Linked DNA regions of Homo sapiens. The protein of the gene in region 3 purifies or fractionates together with the protein of the main gene of each other region. This does not show direct contact. Each region holds a gene or a part of one and is shown on either strand. Other genes may lie near its edges.

Region 1 (7,849 bases), on a different chromosome or scaffold from region 3:
TCCGCAGGAAAGGGGGCCCACTGCTGTCCCCAGCGCCCCATCCCCGCAGTCCTCTGCCCTCAGCCTGGATCAGCCACAGCCTGGGGGCTGCACCTCCCCGGACCACCCCGGCTCACCGAGAGGCGGGTACTGGGAGAAGCTCTCCACACACATGGGCTTTCCCGGCACCATCTCCACGATGGCCGCGTCTCCAGACTTCAGGGACTTGGGGTTGTCCTCCAGCTTCTTGCCAGAGCGCCGGTCAATCTTCTCCTTCAGCTCCGCAAACTTGCAGGCGATGTGGGCTGTGTGGCAGTCGATGACCGGGGAGTAGCCGGCGCTAATCTGCCCCGGGTGGTTCAGGATGATGACCTGCGAGCGGAGCCACAGGCGGCCATCAGGCACATCGGCGGTGGGCACCGGGAGGGCGCCAGAGCGGGGCTGGGAGGCCCAGTCACCGGCGCCCCTGCACGGGCTCCTGGGCCCGGAGTGCTGACTGGAGGGGGCTCAGGCTCTGAGGACCCAGCCCCCAGACCTGAACCTCAACATCCTCATTAAGCAAAAGATAAACAACTGAGATTCATTGTTTCGAAGGGGCAGGGGCAGCACTTACACGGCCAACCCCAGCTGGAACTAAGGCGGGGGGGTGACAAAACTGGACCTCAATTCCTGTGTTTCAGTTGTATCTCAATAAAGCCACTTTTAAAAATCATATGAAGAGGCCAGGCACGGTGGCTCACACCTGTCATCCCAGTACTTTGGGAGGCTGACGCACGTGGATCACTTGAGGTCAGGAGTTCGAGACCGGCCTGGCCAACATGGTGAAACCCCGTATCTACTAATAATACAAAAATTAGCCAGGCGTGGTGGCACATGCCTGTAATCTTACCTACTTGGGAGGCTGAGGCAGGAGAATCACTTGAACCCGGGAGGCGGAGGTTGCAGTGAGCCGAGATCGCACCACTGCACTCCAGCCTGGGCAACAGAGCGAGACTCCGTCTCAAAAAAAAAATAAATAAATCATATGAAGAGGCCAGCAAAGAGGGGCAATGAAGACTGTAGAGAATAAAAGTATGACAGAGATGTCTCAGACAGTAAGTTAACAAAAGCGTTTTTCTAGGACGAATGTAGGACCTCAAAGGCTGGGCATCCCAGCAGTGCAGCGTGGAAGACAGACCCGCGATTGCACACAGGCTGGGAGCCACAGGGCCTGCACCCCTCCCAGAACTGATTGATCCCCTCGTTGAGTGCTCGGTGGCCCCCTCGGTGGTATGCGGGTCCCTTTTCTTTTTTTTTTTTTCTTTTGAGACGAAGTCTCGCTCTGTCACGCAGGCTGGAGTGCAGTGGCGCAATCTCGGCTCACTGCAACCTCCGCCTCCCAGGTTCAAGCGATTCTCCTGCCTCAGCTTCCTGATAGCTGGGACTACAGGCACGTGCCACCACGCCTGGCTAATTTTTGTATTTTTAGTAGAGACGGGGTTTCACCATGTTGACCAGGATGGACTTGATCTCTTGACCTCGTGATCTGCCCGCCTCGGCCTCTCAAAGTGCTGGGATTACAGGCGTGAACCACTGCGCCCAGCCTGAGGGTCTGGTTTTCTCCCCACGCCAGGCCACCTGCCGACAGCAGCCTCACCCAGGACAGTCCTGCTGCTGTCCAGCAGGCGCCAGCCCCCTGGACCCAGCGCAGCCCCCCACCTGGGAGGTGAACTGAGCAGCCTCCTGCGGCGGGTCAGACTTGCTGTCCCCACACACGTTGCCCCGCCGGATGTCCTTCACCGACACGTTCTTCACATTGAAGCCGACGTTGTCGCCGGGCAGAGCTTCGCTCAGAGCCTCGTGGTGCATCTCCACTGACTTCACCTCAGTGGTGATGTTCACTGGCGCAAAGGTCACCACCATGCCCGGCCGCAGGATGCCGGTCTCCACCCGGCCCACGGGCACCGTGCCAATGCCTGCAGAGGGGAGGGGGTGTGAGGGGAAGGTGGGGCCCGAGGGGATGCTGGGGCAGGATATTCGGGGACAGAGCCTGGAAACCAACAAAGCCTGGGACTGGATCCCCCCGACAGGCCTGGGGGTTGGGGCCACATGGGCGGAGTGCAGGGGAAGGGAGGCCAGGGACAAGGGCAGACACAGAGATTCCAAGGGAAGTGGGGGCTCTCCCACCCAGCTGGGGAAATAAGAGGCTGAGCAGCAGAGCTCCCAGGAACCCACGGAAAAGCCACAGGGACAGAGAAGCGGGAGGATGGGCAGAGAGGGGCTGTCTGAACCTGGGGTCCCATCCTTGCCCCCGGAGAGCACTTTCCCTCAAAGGAGGCACTATGGGACCCCTCCTTTGTCTGAGGACTCCTCCCTGTGAGTGTGGGCGGGGCGACTGACTGCTTCTGCCTGGGGCCTGGTGGCCCTGCTCCCTGCTCCCTGCAGGCCCTGCTCCCTGCTCCCTGCAGGCTCTCTGGGCCCCACTTGGATGCTGCAGGTCTCTATCACTAAAGGGGCCTCTCAGCCAGATGCAGCACAGGCACAGCGGCACATGAGCGTCCCTGGCATTTCTCATGGATCTACTTAAACCAATTGTGCAGCTGCCACATGGGGGTCTTGTCCCCCCCCAGGCTACTGGGTCTCCACCCTCACCTCCCAGGGCTGTGAGGGAGGCCTGTTGTAGCCTCCAGCCAACTTCACTGAGGCCAGTGGCTGTGCTCTGTGCTGGGGTGAGCATGATGCCCCCACAGTGCACACAGAGATGCCTGCAACATCTTTGGCTGCAGCCCACTGGCTGGGGGTCTCCTATCAGTGCCCTTCTCTAGGGTCTCAGATTTGTTTATGGTTTCTCTTCTTGGTGGGATGGATGGATGGATGGACGGATGGATGGGGAGGTGGGTGGATGGATGGATGGATGTATGAATGGGGTGGTAGATGGATGGGGAGGTGGATGGACAGAAGGATGGGTGGGGAGATGGATGAGTAGGGAGATGGATGGATGGATTGGTGGATGGATGGATGGATGGATGGATGAGGAGGTAGATGAGTGGATGGACAGAAGGATGGATGGGTAGGAAGGTGGGTGGATGAATGGATGGATGGGGAGGTGGATGGATAGATGGATGGATGGATGGATGGATGGATGGATGGATGGGGGGATAGATGGATGGATGGATGGATGGACGGACGGATGGGGAGGTGGATGGATGGATGGATGGATGGATGGATGGATGGATGGATGGATGAGGAGATGAACGGATGGATGAGATGGATGGATGGATGATGGAGGGAAGGATGGCTGGGTGGGGAGATGGATGGATAGAGAGGTGGATGGGTGGATGGGGAGATGGATGGATGGATGGATGGATGGGGAAGTGGATGGATGGGGAGGTGGATGGATGGATGTATGGGTGGGTAGGTGGGTGGATAGATGGATGGATGGATGGATGGATAAATGGATGGATGGAAGGATGGATGGATAGGTAGGTGGGTGGATGGATGGATGGATGGATGTACAGAAGGATGGATGGGTGGGTAGGTGGGTGAGTGGATGAATGGATGGATGGATAGATAGAAGGATGGATGGGTGGGTCAATAGATGGATGGATAGAGAGAAGGATGGATGGGTGGGTAGATGGATGGATGGATGGATGGATGGATAGAGAGAAGGATGGATGGTTGAGACAATGGATGGATGGATGGATGGATGGAGAGATGGATGGATGGATGGATGGACAGAAGGATGGATGGGTGGGGAGGTGGATGGATGGATGGAAGGATGGATGGATGGATAGAGAGAAGGATGGATGGGTGGGACAATGGATGGATGGATGCATGGATGGATGGATGGAGGGATAGAGAGAAGGATGGATGGGTGGGACAATCAATGGATGGATGGATGGATGGATGGATAGAGAGAAGGATGGATGGGTGGGGAGATGGATGGATGGATGGAGAGGTGGATGGATGGATGGATGGATGGATTGATGGACAGAAGGATGGATGGGTGGGGAGGTGGATAGATGGAGAGATGGAGGGATGGTTCGATAGAGAGAAGGATGGATGGGACAATGGATGGATGGATGGATGGAGTGAAGGATGGATGGGTGGGGAGATGGATGGATCGATGGATGGATGGATGGATAGATAGATGGATGGAGAGGTGGATAGATGGATGGGTGGATGGATGGACAGAGGATGGATGGGTGGGGAGGTGGGTGGATGGATGGATGGATGTGGGATGGACTGTCCCACAGAAAGTGTGTGGTAAGGGGAGAGATTGGAGACAGCCCAGTCTTGAGATGCCTTGTAGGGGCCCCTGGTCTAGGGCAGGCAGAGCTGGCCAGGCAGGAGCTCCAGCACAGCGCCCTTGCTCACCGCCAATCTTGTACACGTCCTGCAGCGGCAGGCGCAGGGGCTTGTCCGTGGGGCGCGTGGGGGGCAGGATGGTGTCCAGGGCCTCCAGCAGGGACACGCCGCTTGCGTTGCCCTCCTTACGCTCCACCTTCCAGCCCTTGAACCACGGCATCTGGACCAAAGGGAGAAAATCAATCCGTTAAGAGACATTGGTGGCCTCCCCACCCTCAGGCCTCCCCAGGGTGCTTCCAGGAGTACTGCTGTTCAGGCTAAACTTGCCTCGTGCCCTTTGAGATGAGGAATTTCCCCACCCTGCTCCTCCCCAGCCCATAGCCCCAGCATCACAGGGACTCTGGGAAGGAGATCCCTCTTAAAAGGAGGAGGACAAAGAGGGAAAGCACCCTTCCCAGCCCAGGCTGCTCAGGAGTTGCTGACACTGTGAACAAATCCCCAGTCCAGCCCCAAGTCCCCGAAACCCCGGGCCCCTGACCATCAGCTCCAGGCAGGGCAGATGACTTGACTAGGAGGATGCTGAGTCTGGCCAAGGGCCAGGCCAGGGACAGAGCTGGAGGAGCCTCGCCCCACCCTAGCTTCTGGACACCGTGCTGCCTCCGAGCTTGGCCCAGCCTTGTCCGGAGCTTCTCCTAGTGTGGCCCCCACTCCCATCCCATGAAGCCTCCCTCTGGGCCACCTGCCACAAACAGGGAGCAGGGGAGGGGGCCGGCAGCACAGTGCCCCAGCCCCCCAGGGCCTGTGTAAGCACGAGCCACCTAGCAGCTCAGGCCAGAGGGGAGTGCAGGGTCCCTGATGGCTGGAGGCCTCCCTGGGGAGGGGAGAGTGGCGTTCGCCACATGATACCCCATGAGGAAAACGCCATCACAGGTAAACAACACCGAGCCTCGTGAGATGGAGGCGGAGCTGGGGGAGTCCCTCCCAGTTCTGTCCCCAGACCTCAGCTCCAGGCTCAGTGCTGCTGGTCTGTCTCCCTGCTGTCTCTAGACTCCACACCTGCACCCTCACTGTGGGCAGCGACAGTGCTGGCAGAGCCTAGTGGTGGCCATTCTGGGGTCTCCTCTGGCTTGGAGAACCCTGGGAACAGTCTCAGGTTCTGCAAGTGTCTCCACGCGTCACCTCCAGCCAAGGCAGAGTCCCTGGGCTACAGACTGTTCGCACGTTGAGCTCCCAGGTGACCGGCCAAGAGCCAACCCTTGGCCATCCCAGCAAGCCCAGAAGCATGCACACTTCCCAAAGCCCAACCCTGCTCCAAGATCCCAGGGGAGGCAGCCAAGGAGGCCCCCACGGCCCAGCCCAAAGCCCCTGCACGGTGTCCAGGACCAGGACAATGGCCTGGCAGAGATGAAACCGACCGCCCCCATGGCAGGGCTCTGGAGACCAAGCACATGGGCCTGGTGCTGGAGGCCGCTGCCCCTGCTGTGTTGACATCGTAGATGGGCCCTGGCCCCGGCCAGCCGCGTGGGAGGCTGAGTGTAGGAGCAAAGCCCGGTGCTGAGGGGCATGGGGCTCCCCGCCGGGCCCTGAGCCAGTTAGGGAAACCCAGCAGGTTTCGAGGGGAACCTGCATTTCCCGGGGACAGGCCCTCGACCTCCCCGTGCCACCTGCCGGTGCCTCGCTCTGGGCCAGGGGGTCCAGCCAGCTCCCGTGGCCCGCCCCGCCCTAGCCGCCACTCACGTTGGGGGAGGGCTCCAGCATGTTGTCACCGTGCCAGCCGGAGATGGGCACAAAGGGCACGGTGGCCGGGTTGTAGCCGATCTTCTTGATGTAGGCGCTGACTTCCTTGACGATCTCGTCGTAGCGCTTCTCGCTGTAGGCCGGCTCTGTGGAGTCCATTTTGTTCACGCCCACGATGAGCTGCTTCACACCCAGCGTGTAGGCCAGCAGGGCATGCTCCCGCGTCTGCCCATTCTTGGAGATGCCCGCCTCGAACTCGCCCACGCCCGCCGCCACGATCAGCACTGCGCAGTCCGCCTGCCCGGCAGGGGACACAGTGAGCCCTGCCCCGCCTGCCTGGCAGGGGACAGAGCGAGCCTGGCCCCACCTCACTTCCAGGCCTCTCCAGGCAGCGGGCTGGGGCCTGAGCAGCCCACTGGGGCCTTGGGGAGGGAGGCATGGGGGTCCCCACTTCAAGGGCAGCATGGGGGCTCATCGCCAGGCCCTGGGTCAGGGGACCGAGGTTCAGCCCTGGCTCCACCACCAGTGGGCTGTGTGTCCCTGGACAAGTCACTCAGCCTATCTGCTCCTGTTCCTCACTTGAGGACGGATAGAAGTCACAGTTATCAAAGCAGTTTGGAGGTGGTGGCATGTGTCCTGCTGTCTGCAGGGTGCTGTGTCTGGGGTGTCCGTGCGTCTCTGTGAGTGCCCTGAAATGTCATACAGTCTACACCTGGCGGGTGGCACCTCTGCCCACTGCTCACTCTCCCCATCCTGGCCTCCAACCCCTCCATGTATGAAGGTGTGTCCACGTCCCCATCTGCCCCCATCTATCTGGGGACTCTGACACTGGCTGGATGCCTTCACAGGCACTGGTTCAGATGCCAGAGCACTGGATTCATCCTTAGGGGGGCTCTGAGCCAGACTGGGTGAGGGTGGCCCAGGTGAGGGGTCCCCTGCCCTCACAGGAAGCACAGGAGACCCTACCATCCCAGTGACCCCAGGGGCCCCCAGTGTCCCTTGAAGGGTGCAGCGGCCTCTCCCCCAGCCCCGCCTGCTGTGCCCTGCTCACCTGGGATGTACCCGTGATCATGTTCTTGATGAAGTCGCGGTGGCCGGGGGCATCGATGATGGTGATGTAGTACTTGGTGGTCTCGAACTTCCAGAGGGAGATGTCGATGGTGATGCCGCGCTCACGCTCCGCCTTCAGCTTGTCCAGCACCCAGGCATACTTGAAGGATCCCTTCCCCATCTGGAGCGGGTGAGGGTCACGGCTGAGGGCGGGACCCGGGACCCAGGAGTCCCTGGTGGTGCGAGCTGCTTGTTACAGCAGAGTGGCCGCGAGAGGCGGGAGATGGGCTCCAGCACCCCCTTGCTCTCCGTCGGGGTCCTGGGACGCCGGCCCCCTCCGTCGGGACCCCACACCCAGACCCTGCCCCCCAGGGCCGGCCTCCGCACCTGCTCCGAAATGGGCGCGGCTACGCAGGTCCACCAGCAGGTGGCGCAAGGGCCTGGGAGTCGCTCGCTCTACGAGCGAAGCCGCCAGATGGGATAAACCCCTCCCGGGCGAGGGCTCCCCTTTATCTGAAGCTGCGGACGCCCCCAGATCCCTTCCTCAACCAGAGGCCAATAATACCACCGTGTTTGGGGCTGTCAGATAAATAACCCTCTGTGTGTGTGTGTTTTTTTAAGGTAAGGAGAAAGGAAAACTGAATGAGGTCAGGAGGAGGGCCTGGCCACGCAGCTCCTTCCCGCTGCTCCAGCCTCCCCATCCCTCTGAGGCTTCTCCTCCCCTTCCTCGCTCTGCCGGACACGGGAAGCTGGGGGGCCTCGGCCAGTGAGACCCCCACAGAAGGGGACGGGCTTC
Region 2 (8,605 bases), on a different chromosome or scaffold from region 3:
GCAGGCCGAGTGCGTCCGTCCCAACAGCCGGAGCTCAGTGTCATCTAGGGACTGGGAAAAGAGGGTGGGTGTAAGCATACCAGCAGCTCAGAGAGAGACAAGAACCCTCCTCCCCATTGTAGACACAGATACAGGGAGAACGCAGCACGTGGCAGGCAGCTGGAAGGCAGGAGGGGGAAGGTCAAGCTGGCACCAAGAGCTGCCATTCACAGAAGGGTCGCTATGTGCCAAGCACCTTTATGTAGTGTCTAATTTAATCTTTGTAACCCTCCAATATTAGTTCTATTTTACAGATGAGAAAACTGAGGTTCAGAGGTGTTAAGTAACTTGTCCAGGCCATACAGTTGCAAAGTTCGACCTGGAATTTAGGACTGTCTGACTCCAAAATCAAGTCTTTATTTACTTTACTTTTCAATTTTAAATAATTCTAACCTATAGAAAAGTTGAAAGAAAATCACAAAAAAAACCTTCATCTTGATTCACCATTTGTCCATATTTGTTTCTCTTTAAACATACATACCTGTTATTATGCTGAATCATTTAACAGTAAATTATAAACCAGCACTGTCCAAAAGAACTTTCTACAATGGTGGAAATGTTCATATCTGTACTGTCCAATATGATAGGTAGTAGCCACATGTGGTTATTTAAATTTAAGTGAATTAAACTTAACTTACCACATTTCAAATGCTCACTAGTCTGTGGCTAGTGGCCACTATATTGAATAGCAGTTATAGATATTATACTCCCTAACCTCTAAATACTTAGGTGTGTATTTCCTAAAGAACAAGGACATTCTCTTACATAACTGCAATCCAATTACAGAGTTCAGGAAATGCAACACTGACACAACACCATTACATAATACATTGTCATATTCAAATTTGGCTAATGGTCCCAATAACATCTACTGTAGTAATTTCCTCCTTCCTCCCCAGTCAGGGGCCACACATTGTATTCAGCTGTCTCTTCTGTCTCCTTTAGATTCTCAGCCTTTCTTTGTCTCTCATGACACTGGCATTTTTGAAGAATACAGGCCAGTTGTTTAAAATGAATAATTTAATGAATTTAAATAAATTATTATTATTTACGAATTATAATTATTTAAATGAATTATTTAAAATGAATAATTTCTACAGATTGGCTGTATAACACTGTGCTTATAGTTAACAGTGCTGTATGTACATTTAAAAACTTGTTAAGACGGTAGATCTCATGCTGTCTGTTCTTACCACAATAATTTTGTAAAAATCTCTTAATTCAGGGTTTCCTGACAATTAGATTCAAGATATGCGCTTTGGGGTAAGAATATCTTAGAAGTGATGTGTTTCTGTCAGCATATTCCATCAGAACAAAGCCCACAACCCGGAAGTCCTACGGAAATATCGGAGGTCAACCTGAGACGACTAGGTTTCTCCCTACTTAAAAACCTTCAATGGCTCCCTATCATTACTAGGACAAAACCCACACTCCTTAGTAGGCACCAAAGGTTTTGGACTCTACCTTGCAACCTTGTTTCCAGCCTCTCCAATCACAAGGAATGACTCACAACTCCCCCAAAACATGCCAGGCTCTTCCATGGCCTGTGTCGTTTCCCCCACACCCCCTCACCTGGTGAACTCTTCCTCTTCATTCAAACATCTCCTCCAGAGAAGTTTCAGTGATTTCATCAGAGTGACCTCCCTTCAGGCTGTACTCTAGAAGCCTTTTATAGAGACCCCCTTTACAGGTGACATTTACCATGCTGCAATAATCTGGCTACATGTCTGCGTCTCCCGTGTCATGTAGCAAATCTTTTTTGACCACCTACTATGTGCCAGGCACTATGGTAAGTGTTTGAAATAGAAAAGCCACACCTGATCCCTTTCTCATAAAGTCTGTGGTCTATGACAGCAGCAGACAATTAAGGAGTTATAAAAGTGTCGCACTAGGCCCTACTGTGTCCCTGGCACCCAGAAGGTGCTCAATCAATGTTTGCCCAATGAATGAATGTGACCAAAGAGGAGATGGCACTGAAGGGCGGGGTGCACTGGGATGGGGTGAGTGCCATGGGTTACCTGGAGGCCTATAGACAACCTGTTAACCCCTGCTGCCCCGAACTCTGCCAGTCTGGAGCCCGGAGCTGAAGTAGGATTAGCCTCCAATGTGACTTCCAAGTCTGCAGGCAGGTGGGCTGCCTGTGCCACAGCCTCCAGGACAGCAGCCACCGTGTGGGGACTGGCTAGACTGGGGGTCCCCCCACCAAAGAACACAGACTCCACCCTGGGGAAAGAGAATGGAGAAATGAGACCTGGGGGAGCCCTCTGGGATGCCTGCACCTATCCCCCACCACTCCTCCAAATATTTCCCAAAACGCTGCCTACAGCCCCCACTACCCACCGTTGCACCCCGCTGAGCCGCAGCAGCGTCTGAGCTTCGGTCACCAGACACTTCTGCATGGCAGCCTCCTCCAGGCGGCGAGGGATGTACTTGTTGAAGTTGCAGTAACTGCAGCGCTTCTCGCAGTAAGGCCACTGGGGGCAGTGAGTGCACGTGCGCGGTGAGAGCTGCCCTGGCCACTTCCAGGGTTCAGTCGCACACACCCCCAACCCCACCCCCACCCCTATCCCGAGGTCTTTCCACAGTAGCTAGGACATCTAAGCCACACAACTCCCCAAGGCAGGTCGCACTGGGGTTATTACATCCACTTCAATGTGAGAAAACTGAGGCTCACTCCTTTGTTACGCTGCCTCTTCCAACCAGCAGACGTCAGGAAGGAATTCAACCCAAGCTCTTTCTGGGATCATATAATTTTCATACAATTTTCCTATGAGCCATTTTCCCAGCTACCGAGTCAGAACACTGCTCTTAAGAAAATTTTGTCTTGCTAAGAGGAAAATTGTTATGAAATTTGAACCATTTGGTCAGAGTCACCGAGCCGGTGAGTAGCAGAGACTTCAGGTTTCTGGACCAAGTCATTTCCCTGCCAAAGCACAGGGTCCCATCCCAGACCTCGTACGGGGGCACGGAAACACGGCAGGCGGGTTCATAGAGTGACAAACCGCCACCTGGGTTTTGGACGGCCACGGTCACGGCCAGGGCTGCGGCCACACACCGTGGGCTCCGCCCCCGCCCCTACTCACGTGTACGTAAAGCGCCGCGCGCCGGCCCGCAGGCTCAGGACTCGGGGACCCTCCTGCGTTCTCCACGCGGCGGCGCCTCTGGGCCGCTCTGGCTGCTGCCGCCCAGCCGCGAGCCCGGGCTCCGGGGAGCGCCATGGCGCCCAGCGCAGCGCGGCGCACTGACCCGAGCAGGAGACGCGCGCAGGGATCACTGTGAGTGCGCAGCCGGCGGAAGGAAGAGGGGCTGCGTGACCGCGCGACAAGAGGGCCCGGGCCCGGGGCTGCGGCGCCACCTGCCGGGCGCCCGGGCGCTCACTGCGGCCTCCTGTCGGTTCTTTCCCCAGGCCGCGAGGCGGGCTGCTTGCCTTTTGGCACCTTGTGCCCGGGCGAGTTCCCGGACCCATCCAGGAGCTCTTAGTTTGTTCAGTCAATTCCTTGACATTTGATGTGCCTGGCTCAGAACTGGGCGCTGGGGACATCTAGGTGCATAAAGCCAGGTTGCATTCTGGCAGGAGAGAGGCAAGCCAACCGGCCAGGACAGGCAAGGCGTATTAATTCCGTGCCTGCTGGACACCAGAGCCGTCCGCCTCAGTGCTGTGAGGTCATCTGTTTTAAGAGTGTGGGAGTCAGTAGGGCAGAAGAGACACTTGGGCTGGATCTTTCTTTTAATTTCATTTACAAATATTTGGGAGAGGGGAGGTCTTGAACTCCTCGGCCTCAAGCGATCCTCCTGCCTCAGCATCTAGAGTAACTAAGGATTAAGGGCATGAGCCACCACCAGGGCTATGCACGGGATCTTGGAGGAGCAGAAAATCCCAGGGGCAATTGGCTTGGCCGGGAGAGTAGACTGTTTTGGGTCAGGCCAACCCAAGCATCTGGAGGTGTACGTGCTGGAAGGACAGTCAGATGGTGTGTGTAGGAGAGAGGGGGAAGGCGCAGGGGAAGGCCTGGGGAAGCAGGCACCTGAACAACTGTCCCACAAAGCAGAAACATCATGGGCTTCAGAGGCAGGCGGTGCAGGACAGTTCTCCCAGTGGCCTTGAACTGACCTGGTTCTCCCCTCCTTTCTTGCTTGTAGTTCTCAAGAATAACTGTAGACGCCTGTAATCCCAGCACTTTGGGAGGCCGAGGCGGGCAGATCACTTGAGATCAGAAGTTCAAGACCAGCCTAGCCAACATGCTGAAACCCCGTCTTTACCAAAAATACAAAAATTATCCAAGCGTGGTGGTGGGCACCTGTAATCCCAGCTACACGGGAGGCTGAGCAGGGAGAATCCCTCGAACCTGGGAGGCGGAGGTTGCAGTGAGCTGAGACAGTGCCACTGCACTCCAGCCTGGGTGATGGAGCAAGACTGTCTCAATAAATAAATAAATAAAACTGTAGAGTGTGCAGAGAATGCAACATCCTGAGGGAAGGAAGGACTGGCCAGCACAGCCATGCTCTGTTCCAGTCCCCCTAGAAAAAGCATGTCCTTCAACACTTCAGCCCAACATGTCACATGGCCCCAGGGTATAAAGCCCAGGGCAGAAGCCGGGCGCGGTGGCTTACTCCTGTAATCCCAGCACTTTGGGAGGCCGATGCGGGCGGATCATAAGGTCAGGAGATTGAGACCATCCTGGCTAACACGGTGAAACCCCGTTTTTACTAAAAATACAAAAAACTAGCCAGGTGTGGTGGTGCGTGCCAGTAGTCCCAGCTACCCGGGAGGCTGAGGCAGGAGAATTGCTTGAACCTGGGAGGCGGAAGTTGCAGTGAGCCCAGATGGCGACACTGCACTCCAGCCTGGGAGACAGAGTGAGACTCTGTATCAAACAAACAAACAAACAAACGAAAAACAGGGCGGGCTGGTTTCTGGGGTCCCTCAGCTTCAGTACAAGTCTGGCTGGCTGGGCGTGGTGGCCCATGCCTGTTATCACAACACTTTGGGAGGCCGAGGCGGGTGGATCACCTGAGGTCAGAAGTTCAAGACCAGCCTGGCCAACATGGCGAAACTGTTTCTACTAAAAAAAAAAAAAATAGCTGGACGTGGTAGTGCACGCCTGTAATCCCAGCTACCAGGGAGGCTGAGGCAGGAAAATTGCTTGAATCCCAGGGTTCACACCACTGCACTCCAGCCCGGGTGAAAGAGCGAGACTCCATCTCACAACAAACCAACAACAAAAAAAAAAGTCAGGCATGCACAGACAACGGTCCATCCCCCAGCTGCCTCAGCAGCTTTCCTGAGCCGTAGGGGTCCAGCTCCAAATGAATCCCAGCCTTCTGTTGTCCCTTAGTGCCTACCTATAGGTAATAAACACGTTGCATGTCACTTGTGTTTGCCTCGCTGGACTCAGCGTTATGTAACTTGTGGGTGTTTGCCTCACTGGACTCTGACAAGTTGGTAACTAGTGTGCAGTGAACCTGCCTAACAGACAGCTGGGTTCTGATCCAGCTGTGTGACCTTGAGCAAGATACGGAACCTCCCTGAGTTTCTGTTGGGTCATTGGTGAAGTGGGACCAATGGCTACTTGAAAGGATTGTTGGGAAGATTTGGAGAGAAAATAATGTGAAAGTACCTAGCACAGAGCCTGGTACTGAAAATACCTTAAACCTATGTTCATTTCTTAAAAAGTCAAGAGGAGGCTGCTGCTGCCTTGGGCAGGCACGCTGGGAGGTAAGGGGGCAGGCACGCTGCGAGGTAAGGGGGCAGGCGCGCTGCGAGGTAAGGGGGCAGGCGCGCTGGGAGGTAAGGGGGCAGGCGCGCTGCGAGGTAAGGGGGCAGGCGCGCTGGGAGGTAAGGGGGCAGGCGCGCTGCGAGGTAAGGGGGCAGGCGCGCTGCGAGGTAAGGGGGCAGGCGCGCTGGGAGGTAAGGGGGCAGGAGCGCTGCGAGGTAAGGGGGCAGGCGCGCTGCGAGGTAAGGGGGCAGGCGCGCTGGGAGGTAAGGGGGCAGGCGCGCTGGGAGGTAAGGGGGCAGGCGCGCTGGGAGGTAAGGGGGCAGGCAGGAGGCAAGTTTCCATTCCTGTGAACTGGGAATCTATGTGCCTTTTGGAACCCAGCTGTTTTTATTTCTTGGGTCAAGGTACAACCTGCTTTATCTGGCCCTGCCTACGAGGGATGCCCCAGGTTCACCAATCAAAACAAATAAAAACTAAAAATGAGGTTGGTTGGGGAGGAAGGGGGCTGGGAGATGGGAGATAATAGTTAAAGAGTATGGGGTTTCTTTCTTAGGTGATGACAATATTTAAAATTGACTGTGGTGATAGTTACACATATTTGTGAATATACTAAAGACCACTGAATTCTATACTTTAAATGGTAGATTGTCCCAGCACTTTGAGAGACTGAGGCAGGAGGATTGCTTGAGCCCATGAGTTCTAGACCAGCCTAGGCAACATAGCAAGATCCTGTGTCTATGTTTAAAAATTAGTTAAGACATGGTGGCACATTCCTACAGTCCCAGCTACTCAGGAGGCTGAGGTGGGAGGACTGCTTGAGCCCAGGAGTTCGAGGCTGCAGTGAGCTATGATCATGTCGCTACAGTGAGTCACTGCACTCCAGCACGGGTGACGGAATGAGATCCTGTCTCTAGAAAATGGGGGAGGTGGGAGTGAACTGGAGAGTATGTGAATTACATCTCAATCAAGCTGTTATACATATATAAAAAGAATACTTCTTGCTAGACTAATCTGGCAACAATGTGAAAAAGAATTAAATTAGAGTAGCTTAAAAATAAAAAATTGGGGCCAGGCGCAGTGGTTCATGCCTGTAATCCCAGCACTTTGGTAGGCTGAGGCAGGCGGATTGCTTGAGGTCAGGAGTTTGAGGACCAGCCTGGCCAACATGGTAAAACCTCGCCTCTACTAAAAATACAAAAGTTAGTTGGGTGTGGTGGTGGGTATCTGCAATCCCAGTTACTTGGGAGGGTGAGGAAGGAGAATCACTTGAATTAGGGAGGCAGAGGTTGCAGTGAGCTGAGATCGCATGACTACACTCCAGCCTGGGTGACAGGGCAAGACTCTGTCTCAAAAAACAAGAACAACAACAAAAATGGGTTGGTATCTCAAAGGGATACCAAGGGTGAGGGTTAAATTAAGTAGATAATCCACATCAAGGTGCTCTGCACTCTCAATGACAAGGAATAGGACGTCTGAAAGTGCTAGTTCCCCTCAGTGTCTTCCCTTCTCCATCCTGTAGTAGCTGCCAAGAGAGCCCACCAGCAAGAAGCCAAAGAAAACAGAAGCTCTTTATGCCAAATCACAAGGACAGACAGGGGAATGTGGGGGATGGACAGGAGGGAGGGCCTGGGCAGGCTGCCTGCCTTTTGGCACCTTGTGCCCAGGCGAGTTCCCGGACCCATCCAGGAGCTCTTAGTTCGTTCAGTCAATTCCTTGACATTTGATGTGCCTGGCTCAGAACTGGGTGCTGGGGACATCTAGGTGCATAAAGCCAGGTTGCATTCTGACAGGAGAGAGTCAAGCCAACCGGCCAGGACAGGCCTGCTGCTTTATTCACAGATTTAGATGTCGTTCCATCTGCTCTCGAAGTTTGAATTTCTGGATCTAGAGGAAAGAAAATGGAGTTAGGGTTACCAGCTGTCTTGGTTCACCCAAGAATAAGGGGTTTCTCAGGCTCTTAGTGCCAAAACAGGGAAAGTCCCCAGGCAAACCAGGATTAGGTGACCCGGTCACCCTACTGCCAGTCTCTCCACACCCATTGCTGAAGGAAACAGAGGTGGGGCCCTATGGGGCCCCAGAGCCCAGGCTGCCCTCCCCAGCCTCCTCCACCTTACACACCTTTCCTGAAATGGTGAGGGGGTAGTTTGTGACAAACACGATGTACTTCGGAATCTTGAAGTGAGAGATCTGCAGACCAGAGGGAGGGAGGTAAGGCGTGAGGCTGCGCAAGCTCACAGGGGTATGGGTAGGGGACCAGGGGCTGGCCTGGCCAGGAGTCAGCTTCGTCAAGGGCAGAGCAATCCCCACCCTGGGCTGGTTGGCAGAGGAGTGGGTGAGCAAAGAACAGAGCAGCATCAGCTAGGTTGAGCGGAGGCTCCCACCTTCCCTTTGCAGAAAGCTTTTATCTCCTCCACCGTGGTCTCCTCCCCGTCCTTCAGCCGAATGCAGGCACAAATCTCTTCCCCCATCCGATCGTCCTTCACTCCCACCACCTTCCAGGGCCAAAGAAAAATATCAGACATCACCGTGTTCATGTGTGTTTCTTGTTTCTGGGGGCTCACCTGAGCCAAGTGCCTCACCTGCACTTCCTGCACCTTCGGGTGTGTGTGAAAGAAGTCCTCGAGCTCTGCGGGGTAGATGTTCTCACCACCCCGGATGATCATATCCTTAGAGCGGCCCACGATCTTGCAGAAGCCCTGCTCATTCATTGTGGCGACATCTCTGTAAGGAAAGCCCAGGGGCAACCTGTCATCTCTGCCTTGTTCACTCACTTGCTTGCTCAGTCGTGAAACATTTATTGACCAGCTACTATGTGTCTTCCACTGCTCTAGACTCTGGGAGACATAGCA
Region 3 (6,090 bases):
GCCCTTGTGGTTGTAAAGAAAGACCTATACAACCAGATGGATATGTTTTAAGTAGGCAGATTGTACAGTGTGTCTTTGAGTAGTCATTCTGTCATCCTTCAGCTGTACCACTTTTCCATCAGTGGTTCATTAACCACTAGGCATGGCAATAGACAATTGGGTACGCAAAAGTGATGTGTACTTTTCAGATTAGATGAGGAATGGGCATTCAGAATTTACTGTCTTGCCCCCAGTTCCAGGTAAGACGTTTTAGTGGCAGGCACTTGCTAGTGAACAGCCCTGGAAACAAGTATTTTGAAAAAGGGAGGCTCAGGTAATTTCTTATTTTGATTTGCCTGGTAAAATTGCTAAAGGTTCATGGTAGATTTGTTTCTACACTGGGTTGTGATGTAACAGCCATACAACCATGCTTTTAAGAAATGACTTCCTTAACTGAAGTTGAAACTCTATAATTATTTCCACAGTTGTCTTCCTAAAACCTGTTGATCCAGTATTATCCTAAACTTTAAGGATAGCCAGTCTATGGGGGAGCCCAAGAATGTAGGCACAGTAATAGTGGAAGGGAGTTCTGACTATTTTGAGTTACTTCTCTCTGAGCAAACAAATTTTATCTCAAGGCAGGAATTGAATGATTGCCATGTTCAGCATACCTATCTTTTTTCTTATGTAACAGTAATTATAAAGTTATGTCTTTTGACTTAGGTTTAAATAATTAGGCAGGGCCAGGTGTGGTAGCTTATGTGCCTGAGGGCTCATGCCTGGGATCCCAGCACTTTGGGAGGCCAAGGCAGGCAGATCACTTGAGCCCAGGAGTTCGAGACCAGCCTGGACAACATGGCAAAACCCTATCTCTACCGAAAATACGAAAATTAGCCAGGTGTGCTAGCATCCACCTGTGGTCCCAGCTACTTAGGAAGTTGACGTGGGAGGATCACCTGAGCCCAGGGAGGTGGAGGTTGTAGTGAGCCATGATCTCGCCACTGCACTCCAGCCTGGATGACAAAGTGAGACCCTGTCTCAAAAAAATAAAATAGGCAAAGCGCATTCAAAGAGGCAGGGACCCTAAAAGCAAAGTGTGGTTCTTTAAGACACGTGAGACTGCTTAATTTTTTATTTAATAGGTACAAAGTAATATTTATATATATGAGGTGTAAAGGATAACATTAGGCCAGGCGCAGTGGCTCATGCCTATAATCCCAGAACTTTGGGAGGCCATGGCAGGTGGATCGCTTGAGCTCAGGAGTTTGTGACCAGCCTGGGCAACATAGCGAAACCCCATCTCTACAAAAGATACAAAAAGTAGCCAGGTGTGTAGTGAGCACCTGTAGTCCCAGCTACTTGGGGGGCTGAGACGGGAGAATTGCTTGATCCCGAGAGGTTGAGGTTGCAGTGAGCCAAGATTGTGCCACTGCACTCCAGCCTGGGTGACAGTGAGACCTTGTCTCAAAAAAAAAAAAAGAAAAGAAAAAAAATTAAATAAATACCTGTATACCTACCATTCAACTATAGTTTTTTTCTTGAAAGACTTAGAAAATTAAAACTGTCATATTTCTGTAGCATACATGTTGATTTTCTTTCCCTGCCCCTTTCTGCATCTGAAAACAAATGATTGAAAGGTTTGTTGTTCTTTCTGGATTTTTAAAACCAAAATCCCAACACTTACAGACCAGGATGGTAGAGAAGGCTCTTTTGTTTGTTTGTTTTTGAGACAGGGTCTTTGTCATCCAGGCTGGAGTGCAGTGGTACAATTAGAGCTCACCGCAGCCTCGCACTCCCTCAGGTGATCCTCCCACCTCATCCTCCTGCATAGCTGGGACTACAGGCACAAGCCGACACACCCAGCTAATTTTTTTTATTTTTGCTGCAGAGGAGGGCTGGCTCCCTGTGTTCCCCAGGCTGGTCTCGAACTCCTGGGCTCAAGCAGTCCTGCCATGGCCTCCCAAAGTGCTGGGATTATAGGCATGAGCCACTGCACCTGGCCTGAAGAGGCTCTTTATCTTGAAGACGAGTCTTTTATGTGGAAAGAAATGTTTTTGTAAAAGGGGAATTTGTTTTGAAAGGTCACTTTGTTATGATTACATTCACTTCTGAACATTTGCTGGTTCCCCACTTTTTCTCCCTTCGATGTTTTGCAGAACCATAAGCCCCAAACTCTTTATTCTTTTCTTTCAGTATCTCTAGCTCTCTTGATTAGGATGAGAACTGCTTGAACAGCTGGTTGAGAAATTAAGTGTGAAACACCTTGGAGTCTTTAGCATTTTAGAAAAGTCAAGAAGCATAAAGGGAATGTCCAGACAGGAACAGTCTGGAATCCTCAATACGTGGAAATGATTCTAGACTTGGTAGAATCTGGGATGGCTGTTAACACATTTAGATGATTTAAGTCAAATACAAAAGGTGTTTCAGCTGCTGAAACACTCTGGGTGCAGTGCATGTTTGAATGTCTTTGGAGGACAGAAAATACAGTCCATTCATAAGGGCTGTATGAGAAAGAACTGGGTCTATCTGCCAATACAGTGAAGCTAGCAGATTCTAGAATGTCCATTTTCTGTGTGTGTGTGTGTGTATTTTCTTTTTTTTTTTTTTAAAGACGGAGTCTTGCTCTGTTGCCCAGGCTGGAGTGCAATGGTGTGATCTCGGCTCACTGCAAGCTCTGCCTCCCAGGTTCACGCCATTCTCCTGCCTCAGCCTCCCGAGTAGCTGGGACTACAGGCGCCCACCACCATGCCTAGCTAATTTTTTGTATTTTTAGTAGAGATGCAGTTTCACTGTGTTAGCCAGGATGGTCTCGATCTCCTGACATCGTGATCCGCCCACCTCAGCCTCCCAAAGTGCTGGGATTAGAGGTGTGAGCCACCGTGCCCAGCCGTGTTCAGATTTTTTAATAGAAACTGTTTTGGGGCATTGTGGCTGATGCGTGTAATCCCATCACTTTGGGAGGTGGAGATGAGTGGATCGCTTGAGCCCAGCAGTTGGAGACCAGCCTGGGCAACATAGCAAAAACCCCATCTCTACAAAAAAATACAAAAATTAGCTGGGTGTGGTAGCATGCGCCTGTAGTCCCATCTACTTGGGAGGCTGAGGTGGAAGGATCACTTGAACCCAAGAGGTCAAGGCTGCAGTGAGCCATGGTCATGCCACTGCACTCTAGCCTGGGTGACAAAGTGAGACCCTATTTTTAAAAAAAAAACTATTTTCATATCAAGTTTCAGCACTCCTTCGTGTTATATTTTCTAATATTTATTTATTTTACTTTAGCTTATTTCAATTTGTTCGTACTTTAACTTCACCCAAACAGTGATTGTTAGTCACATAGTATAATGTTATAAATCCAATTCAAAGAGATTTTCATCTAAGAGAAGCAGAATGTAAGTGTTACTAGATGTCACTGCTTTTGAAAATAGGCCACTGAGAATAATCATAAGGGAAGTTACCTTGAATAGGAAACCAAATTCTTAATAGCATTAGCAATAGTAATCTTGCCAATTCAGATCTATGCTTTTCACTGTCTAAACAAGCTCATGCTTCTTCCAGTGTCTGTTAAAATTGTGAGTTATAATTCAGGGATGATGGTAAACTACATGATAAAGCTGTCTGTTTGCTTTGAAAGTATTAAGAGTATTTTTCTTTGCAAAATGGTTGATACAGGAAAAGAATGAATCACTAGATGATAATGTAAAACCCATTCACAAAGCTTATTTAAAAAAAACAAAAAGCACCAGGTCGGGAACAACGAAAAGCCAAATGAAATTAATACCAGGATGTCATATTAATCAACAGACATGTTTGGAATTTCTCCTCTTTCTCAGCCATTATGCTAGGCATTAGCAAAGACTAAGTAAGTCTCAAGAAACTGATAAGCTAGTAGAATATGTCAATTAATAGAATAGAAACTAGATACAGGAAGGAGAAGCGGGCTGAAATAGGAAAGCCTTCTTGGAGGCACCAGGACTGAGCTTAAGCCCCTTGGATGGGTAATTGGGTAATGTGAAAGGAAAGGAAGGCATTCCAGATGGAAAGCATTTCAATGATAGTCCAGATCGAGTTTATTTAGTTGATAGGCCTTTTGACCTATAACCAGCATAGACTAAAACTAGCAAATTTGATAATCTTTGGTTTTACTTGAAGAGATGAGAGCAGAAAAACCTTTAGAAACTGGCAGCTGCTTAACAATTACACTTTAATGGAGTTTATTAATCAAAAATTATTCAGGATCTTGTTTAATTCTACCTAACCGCACTCTAGTTTTAGTCCCGGGGTAGCATTCCACTGGCATGTTATGGCAGCATTTGATTATTTTTTAATACTGCTGAGAACGTGCACTACTGCTCATTCTCAGACTACTTTAACGATTTTATTAGAAGCTGAATAAGCATGATAGTTGAGCAAATTGGCTAGCATTTTGTATGACTGTGTAATTTCTTCTTATGTAAAGGTGATGCTGTGGAGTCTTCAAAAAGCCCGACCACTCTGGATTACAAATTTACAGGAGGATGAAACAGAAGAAATGGAAGGCCCACAGTCACCTGGTCAGCTCTTAAACCCTGCCCTAGCCCATTCTATCTCTGTGGCTTCGTGTGGTAATATTTTTAGTTGTGGTGCAGAAGATGGTAAGGTTCGAATCTTTCGGGTGATGGGAGTTAAGTGTGAACAGGAACTGGGATTTAAGGGCCACACTTCAGGGGTATCCCAGGTCTGCTTTCTCCCAGAATCCTATTTGCTGCTTACTGGAGGGAATGATGGGAAGATCACGTTGTGGGATGCAAACAGTGAAGTTGAGAAAAAACAGAAGAGTCCCACAAAACGTACCCACAGGAAGAAACCTAAAAGAGGAACTTGCACCAAGCAGGGTGGAAATACTAACGCTTCAGTAACAGATGAGGAAGAACATGGCAACATTTTACCAAAGCTAAATATTGAACATGGAGAAAAAGTGAACTGGCTCTTGGGTACAAAAATAAAGGGACACCAAAATATATTAGTAGCTGATCAAACTAGTTGTATATCTGTATACCCCTTAAATGAATTTTAAATCCAATAAAAACATTTGAAGAATTGTGGCAAAACTGTTTTTCAGATTAAAAAAAAAAGCTCCTGGTTCTTTATTTAAGCTGTTTGTTATATGTAAAATCATACTCTTCTGCTGTACAAATTTTAAGATATTTGAACAAAAGACAATTGGATATTTATATAGTAAGTGATATGTTAAAGTTTGGAGGAAGAGAATGAATATTCATTGTGTACCATGTACCAGCCATTTTACGTATATTTGATTTCTTGTTCCGAATCATTGAAGTGATTTCCCCCATTTTAGTGCCACAGGAATTAAGACTTAGAAATGTTAAGTAACTTAAAGATCCAGGAAAATTGCAGGCACAACGACTTGTCTGGAAAGGACCTTGTTAAGCTGCCTACCGTAGGGAAGCCCACATCCTGGTCCAAATTGGTCACCATATTAGTTATTTCTGTCCAGGCGCAGTGACTCACGCCTGTAATCCCAGCACTTTGGGAGGCCGATGCGGGCAGATCATCTGAGGTCAGGAGTTAGAAACCAGCCTGGCCAACATGGCAAAAACCCATCTCTACTAAAAATACAAAAATTGGCTGGGCCTAGTGGCACGTGCCTGTAATCCAAGCTACTCAGGAGACTGAGACGGGAGAATCGCTTGAACCCAGAAGGTAGAGGTTGCAGTGAGCCAAGATCACACCACTGCACTCTAGCCTAGGTGACAGAGCGACTCTGTCTCTAAATAAATAAATAAATAACATTAGTTATTTCTGATCCCAGGATGTCATGAGGAGCATTACCAAGTTGGAAGAGGAAACCTGTTCTTGCTTGTTCTGTGTAAAGCCCAAATTGCTTTGCTGACAATTACCTTTTGCTGTGTTTCTAAAAAACAAAAAGGGTTCCAGGGTCAAATCAGTTTAGGGTATTATGCAGCAATCCAGGCCATGATGCTGGTGGAGTGAGAATAAGTTGCAGTTATTAATAAGCAGAAATTCTGACGAAGCAGAAGATAGAAAAGAGAATAGAGGCCTAGATAGGGTGTCAAGAGTTATGTTCCTTTTCATTGAGGCCTGGATTGCTGT

Evidence for each region.
Region 1: the proteins of WDR53 (region 3) and EEF1A2 purify together in Homo sapiens (affinity purification with mass spectrometry; 3 studies listed by BioGRID and IntAct, with this or other methods). This does not show direct contact.
Region 2: the proteins of WDR53 (region 3) and RSAD1 purify together in Homo sapiens (affinity purification with mass spectrometry; 3 studies listed by BioGRID and IntAct, with this or other methods). This does not show direct contact.

What each region holds. Positions count from the first base shown.
Region 1 is NC_000020.11:63,488,802-63,496,650, forward strand, and holds part of EEF1A2 (elongation factor 1-alpha 2), read right to left. Parts: intron 7,235-7,849; coding exon 7,055-7,234; intron 6,301-7,054; coding exon 6,004-6,300; intron 4,487-6,003; coding exon 4,336-4,486; intron 1,935-4,335; coding exon 1,678-1,934; intron 352-1,677; coding exon 117-351; intron 1-116. UniProt on the Homo sapiens protein: Translation elongation factor that catalyzes the GTP-dependent binding of aminoacyl-tRNA (aa-tRNA) to the A-site of ribosomes during the elongation phase of protein synthesis.
Region 2 is NC_000017.11:50,473,537-50,482,141, reverse strand, and holds the start of RSAD1 (radical S-adenosyl methionine domain-containing protein 1, mitochondrial precursor), read right to left. Parts: upstream 3,283-8,605; 5' UTR 3,258-3,282; coding exon 3,123-3,257; intron 2,514-3,122; coding exon 2,380-2,513; intron 2,263-2,379; coding exon 2,058-2,262; intron 52-2,057; coding exon 1-51. Other genes in the region: ACSF2 (medium-chain acyl-CoA ligase ACSF2, mitochondrial), read right to left, coding at 7,590-7,640, 7,875-7,943, 8,138-8,248, 8,336-8,477.
Region 3 is NC_000003.12:196,553,153-196,559,242, reverse strand, and holds the end of WDR53 (WD repeat-containing protein 53), read left to right. Parts: intron 1-4,435; coding exon 4,436-5,032; 3' UTR 5,033-5,066; downstream 5,067-6,090.